Linked DNA regions of Homo sapiens. The protein of the gene in region 2 purifies or fractionates together with the protein of the main gene of each other region. This does not show direct contact. Each region holds a gene or a part of one and is shown on either strand. Other genes may lie near its edges.

Region 1 (3,500 bases), on a different chromosome or scaffold from region 2:
AGTCACCTAATAGTAAGGTCCAAAATGAGAATTACTATCTCCAGAAGAGGGTGGAGGAGGCAGTGGTGGAGGGGGAGGGGGTGGGGGTAGGGAGTATGGTAAGTTAAGTAATGGATGAGCAGCCATGTTTGGTGTAGCCCAACCCATGTTTACAGGTGGGGGTGGTGGTGGGGGTGGAGGGCGGAGGGGAAAATTATGCATGTCAAACACTGGAAGAGGAAAGGGGTATTGTGGCATAATGGGATTATTTTGTCTCTGAGAAGGAAATCCTGAAGTCTCCTGAGATACCATATGTTCTGAGTTATAGAAATGCTGAGGTGGAGGCCTGCCATGGCAAGATCGAGGGTATCTGGCCCTGGAAAATCCTCGTGTGAATTCTCTGTTACGATATCCTTTTGCATGCTCTGAAGCAGAGCTATGAGCATTCCAATTCTGATGTACTTCAGTAAAATCTTCACCTTTGAGTGAGGGGAGGGAAAACATAAAAAGGAAAATAAGTTTAATATATCAAAAAGCATTGTTTGAAATTTCAATTATGATTTTTATTATCCAGTATATCTTGTGGCAGTTAAAAAAGTGTAAGACATAAAATGGTAAATTTGAAATGAACTGAAAAGACAAAACTTAATGCCAAAGAAAGAGAACCCAGCAAGTCAGAAAACACTTAGATGATAACCATTCTACTCTAGCCAAACACCACAGAAGAAAATGTGGCACCATCCCTACACACTCTCAAAGGCTGAGTACAGATCCTAGACTTCTATCCTTGACAGGCAGTAATGAGGTACTCCAACCCTTCCACCACAGTAGCATCAGGAACAGGCTGAACAGGGTGCCAGTAACAAGCCTCCCTGCAAACAATGAACATCACATGGGGAACCTGAACTTCCACCTCCACTGGCGGCAACCCAGTGTTCTTCCCTCTTTTACACTGGGGCAATGTCAGAGAAGATGGAGTAGAGTTAGGATTTTTGTCCCCAACCAGTGATAACAAGGCCATCCTCCACTGGTGTCAGTGCATACCATATGGGGAGGAGTGACAAAGTACTCCTGTCCCTACCAGGCATAAGACCTCGTGGGATGTCAGAACTTCTACCCTCATCCAGCAGTAACAAGGCACCCCTTGGCCAAAGGTGTCAACAGAGGCTAAGAGGAATACCTAGACTTCAATCTACCCTGTTCCTTTCGCTGCCAGAGTAGCATTTTTAAAAAGACAAAGAAACAATCACAACAAACCCAGCTAAATCAGAAGATTTACATAAGATCCATGGTCTTGTAATATAATACTCAATATACCCAGGTTGCAATAAAAGAAAATTGCTCATCACAAAAAGAACCAGGAAGACTTCAAATTCAATGAAAAAAATAAATCAAGCAAGGGTGTCACAAAGATGTTAGAATTATGAAAGGTATTAAAGCAGTCATAAAAATGCTTCAACAAGATATTATGAACATTCTAAAAAATTAAAATTACAAAGTTTTAGGAAAAAAAGAAGATATAAAATAAAGAACAAATTGCAATTTTAGAACTGAACATTACAATAACCAAAATTAAAAACTCAATGGAACAATATTGAAGGAGAAGAACAAAGCTGGAGGACGGAAACTACCCAACTTCAAGACGTATTATAAAGTTTAAGTAATCACAGCAGTGTGGTACTGGTGAAAGGACACACAAATAAATCAATGGGACAAAATAGAAGGTACAAAAATAGACCCACATAAACATACAAAAATAGACCCACATAAACATAATAAACGGATATTTAACGAAGGAGCAAAAGCAATACAACAGAGCATAAGTAGTGTTTTCAACAAATGGGGCTGGAACACCTGGACATCCACATGCAAAAAGAATAAATCTAGACAATAACCTTACACCGTTCACAAGAATTAATTCAAAATGGACCACAGACCTCAATGTAAAATGCAGAATTACAAAATTCCTAAAAGATAACATAGAAGAAAATTTAGACAACCTTGGGTTGATAATGACTCTTTTTTTAGAGACGGAGTCTCGCTCTGTAGCCCTGGCTGGAGTGCAGTGGCACGATCTCAGCTCACTGCAACCTCCGCTGCCCGGGTCCCAGCTGACGCAATTCTCCTGCCTCAGCCTCCCAAGTAGGAATGCGCCACCATGCCCAGCTAATTTTTGTATTTTTAGTAGAGATGGGGTTTCACCATGTTGACCAGGCTGGTCTTGAACTCCTGACTTCCTGATCTGCCTGCCTCGGCCTCCCAAAGTGCTGGGATTACAGGCATTGGGCCACTGCGCTCGGCCAATAATGACTTTTTAGATAATGACTTCTTAGATAGGACATCAAAGGCATGACCCATGAAAGAAATAATCAATATGCTGAATTTCATTAAACTTAACAATTTCTGCTCCACGAAAGATACTATCAGGAGAATGAAAGAAAAAAGCTCAGAAGTTCAAGGTTACAGTGAGCTATGATTGTACCACTGCATTCTAGCCTGGGCAACAGAGCAAGAATATCTCAAAAAACAGACAAAAACAAAAACAAAAACAAAAAAACCTCAGCAAGACATTTGTTGATGTAGAGAAGATTCTAAAATTTATACTGAAAGGTAAAGGACCTAGAATACCGATTATAATTTTGAAAAAGAGAAATAAAGTAGGAGTTATCACTCCACGCAATTTTAAGACTAACCTCACATTCTATACAAAATTTAACTCAAAATGAATCACAAGTGTACAATTTAAAACAGAAGACTACAAAACTTTTAGGGAAAAAATAGAAGAAAATCATTAGGATCTAAAGCTAAGCAGGAAGTTCTCAGATTCCATAAACAAAATTGATAAATTAGTTTTCCTCAAAACTAAAAACTTTAGTATTGCAAAAGGCCATCTTAAAAGAAGGAAAAGACTACAGACTAGAACAAATCATGAACGAACCAAATATTTGACAGAAAGCTAGTATCTAAAATATACATTTTTAAATTCTCGTAACTCGACAGTAAAAATCCAGCAATACAATTTAAAAGTTGGCAAAAGATAATGAACTGACATATCACTGAAGATACCGATAGTAAATGAACACATGGAAAGATGTTCAATGCCATTAGCCATTAGGAAAATGCAAATTAAAACCACAATTATATTAGCACTACAAACCTAGCAGAATGGCCAAAATTAAAAACAGTGATAACACCAAATGCTGGAGAAAATGCAAAGAAATTGTCACTCATACATCGCTGATAAAAATGTAAAATGGTATAGCCATGCTGAAGAACAGTATGGTAGTTTCTTAGGAAACTAAACATGTAATGCAACTATTATACAACCAAGCAATTATACTCTTGGGCATTTATTCCAGAAAAATGAAAACCTCTTTTCACAAAAAACCTGTATATAAATATTTATAGCTGCTTTATTCCTAATAACCCCAAAATGGAAACAACCTAGATGTCCTTCAATGGATGAATGGTTAGGTAATCTGGTAAATTCATGCCATGAAATGTTACTCTGTAATGAAGAG
Region 2 (3,500 bases):
ATGATCTCAATCTCCCTCCGTATGTGCATCAGATCTTGCTCATCTTTGATTTTGTCCTTCCGGATTGACTTGATGGCCACCTGGGAAGAGAAGGCATGAGAGTGAGGAGAAAGGTTTGGCAGAGGACACTCTGGGGGCCCTGGTCCTGGTGGTTTGCCTGTAGCTGCTATAAAGGCCACAGAGTACACCCATAGAAGCCACTCCATCCTTCACCAGTGTAGGTGGCAGAGAGGCTGGAGAGCACTTTCTCTAGAAAAAGATCTCACCTGAGCTGAGTGCACATGGTCCATGCAGCAGGAAGGAATATCGACAAGTCACCTCCTTATTCATAGTCTACAGATAGACAAGGAAGGTAAAAACCTGCATTTGCAAGGCTGATGCGTTATGAATTATAAAGCAAACGTGCCAATCTGCACCATGAGGACAAGGACCAGCCAGTTTTGCTCACCACTGAATTCTTGATGCTGAGCACAGTAGGCACAGAATAACTCCTTGTTGCATTAGTAAATGAACTGACCCTCACAACAACCTTGGGAGGTGGGCACAAAAAGCATCATCAATACCCTTTACAGGTGAAGAAACTGGGACCCAGAGAGGTTAGATGATGTGCTCAGTCATACGGTCACTAACTGGTGCAAGTGGATTCGACTACTGGCCATCTGATTCTGAGTTTGGTACTTTTTCTGCTCCAGTTCTGTAACTTGCTATAAGCAATCAGTCCCTAGCCACAAAGTGGAAACAACCCAAATGTCCATCAAGAAAAGTAGGGATAGGTCTGGGTGCGGTAGCTCAAGCCTGTAATCCAAGCACTTTGGGAAGCCAAGTCAGGAGGATCACCTTGAGGCCAGGAGTTCGCAACCAGCCTGAGCAACATGGTGAAACCCTGTCTGTACAAAAAATTCAAAATCTAGCCAGGTGTGGTGGCACATGCCTGTAGTCCCAGCTATAGGCGCGTGCTGAGGTGGGAGGATTGCTTGAGCCCAGTAGGCAGAAGTTGCAGTGAGCCATGATTGCACCACTGGACTCCAGCCTGGGCAACAGAGTGAGACCCTGTCTATAAAAAAATAAAGAAAAGAAATGTAGGAATAAATTACATGTGGTACGTCCATAGGATGGAATAGAATATTATTCAACCATAAAAAGGAATGAAATTCTGACACATGCTATAACATGGATGATCCTTGAAAACATTATGCTAAGTGAAATAAGCCAGTCACGCAAGGATCAATATTGTATGATCCCACTTAAATGAGGTACCTGGAATAGGCAAATTCATAGGGACAGAAAGTATTAACAGAACGGTGGTTACCAGGGACTGGGGGAGGGGAAATGGGGAGGTGTTGTTTAATGTGCATAGTGTTTCGGTTTTGTAAGATGAAAAGAATTCTGGAGATTGGTTTACAACAACGTTAAATTTAACGCTACTGGTACACTTAAAATGGTAACTTTTATATTATGTATGTTTTACCATGTTTTTAAAAATTGGTCCCAAAATTATGAAGAAAAAAAAAAAAAGCCCCCAAACACCAGTCTATTCAGTCCAGATGAGAAACCTTCCTCCCCTGACAACAAACAACTCAACAGTTGCTTGCTATCTCAGGGCTTGCTATCTTAGCCCGGCAAGATGAAAAACACCACATGAGGACGAAGCCCTCCAGGCAGTATGTGTGGTGGGCTCAGGAAAGGTGGAGAGAGGCAGGAAGAAATGGAAAGAGGGCTGCCGAGGTGCAGCTAGCAAAGCTCTGAGCCACCGAGGGTCTCGGTCCCTCTCTGCTCCACCCTCCTCAGCAGCAGCTCCTGGACAAAATCCCAGAAAATACCAGGGAGCAGGGCCTGAGGCGCGGAGCTGGGGAGAGACACTGCCTAGGGAGTCTGTCACTGTCCCCCTGGGCCAGTCCCCACCCCTTCTCAGAGCCTCGGGTTTTTTTTTTTTCTGTGAAACAAACAGGTTGAACTAAGAGATCTGAGGGGCTTTCCTGCTCTGAGTCTATGAAATTAGCCGTACAGATGCCACGGGGCCCTCAGAGGCTGCAGGGCTAGGTGGGAGCTGGGTGGGGGTGGGGTGTCACAGGGCCGGCCAGTTCCTGGCAAGTGCTGCCCAAGGACGCAAATGGTAAATACGAGACTTCCTCTTATGGGGGTAGGCAAGTTGTGAGAAATCTGAAGACCTAGACTGTGGTAAACAGCTCCTCGTTCAATTTCCCAGGAGGGTTTGCGTCCCCTCAAGATTCAAAGGGAGAGAGAAAAAAGGAAACCCCTGCTCGAGGGGAGGAGCCTCTAATCCACCCTTTCACAGGGCTCTGGAGGCAGACAATGGTTTCTGGCTTGCAGGGGCAGCAGGCCCTGCCGGCCTGTGTTCTCCATCGGACAAGAATGCGGAACAGCCCTAATCCCGTAAGAGGAGCTGCTCACAATGCCCTGGCCCGGTCACCCCGGCAACGGGCCAGGGATGGCGTGCCCTCCATCCCACTCCTCCCCCAGAGCTTCATCTTTGAAAGAGGGGAGGCCCTGCTCTCGGGCCCTCCCTGAGCAGGGCAGGGAGGACAATGGCAGGCGGGAGGGATGGTCACCATGGAGCCTCCTCCCCAAGATGCTGAAGAGGCCCATGCTGCAGCTGCAGGGGATGCGATGGGGCTATCCCCCTTCTGCTCCAAACCATCCATCTCTCCCTAGTGAGCTAAGCAAAAAACAAAAACAAAAATAAAAACCTGGGCTTGGAACTGGGCAGGGGGCCAGGGGTAGATGTAGAGAGGGCCTGAATCCTCCTTTAACTAGGAGGTACCTCTCTCTCCTGGATTCAACTTGGAGTATCATTCCCACACACCTCTCGCCTCCATACCCTTTTTCCTCTCCCTGAGGGGGAGATTTTATGGACAAGTTATTTTCTCTCTAAAATTCTTTGTTTAAAATAAAACAATGGATAAAGTTCTATGAGCTCTTCAGAGATAAAGGTCCATAAAGAGCAAAACGATCAATCATATATAAACATGAATCCCATATCTAGATAATCAAAACTATTTCAGAACTTAAGATGTACGCATAGGCACATCTTGGATGTACAGTTGTGTACTCGCAGATACAATAGTGAAATAAATCATCATAGGCTTAGGGGGCAGAACTCTAAAGATGACAAGGCCTAAAATAAATGAGGTTCCAAAAAAGGGAGAAAGGGGTGTTAGAGGGGCTGGAAGGAGTCTCTGCATGGGGGCGAGTGCACAAGTTGAACCCCAAGATCCATCTCTTTCAACTCCAGAAGCCCATGATTCTACATCAGAATTGTTAATCCTCATTGAACAGTTCCAGCCTCCTGCAAGTTTGTGCTCTGGCATCAGGGGGTAGGTTAGGGACCCACCAGGTATCCATATTAGGTCCCAGGAGATCACAGTACGGCTGGCACTTTCCAGGAAGCAAACAAGTTATGTCATCAGGCCTCTATCGGTCTCCAAGCAGGTGGCAGACAAAAAGAGCCATGCATCACCACCCTGGTGGGGCTAGACCAC

Evidence for each region.
Region 1: the proteins of NUAK2 (region 2) and NAF1 purify together in Homo sapiens (affinity purification with mass spectrometry; 2 studies listed by BioGRID and IntAct, with this or other methods). This does not show direct contact.

The regions. Positions count from the first base shown.
Region 1 is NC_000004.12:163,128,891-163,132,390, forward strand, and holds part of NAF1 (H/ACA ribonucleoprotein complex non-core subunit NAF1), read right to left. Parts: intron 459-3,500; coding exon 7-458; 3' UTR 1-6. UniProt on the Homo sapiens protein: RNA-binding protein required for the maturation of box H/ACA snoRNPs complex and ribosome biogenesis.
Region 2 is NC_000001.11:205,311,746-205,315,245, forward strand, and holds part of NUAK2 (NUAK family SNF1-like kinase 2), read right to left. Parts: intron 81-3,500; coding exon 1-80. UniProt on the Homo sapiens protein: Stress-activated kinase involved in tolerance to glucose starvation. Induces cell-cell detachment by increasing F-actin conversion to G-actin. Expression is induced by CD95 or TNF-alpha, via NF-kappa-B.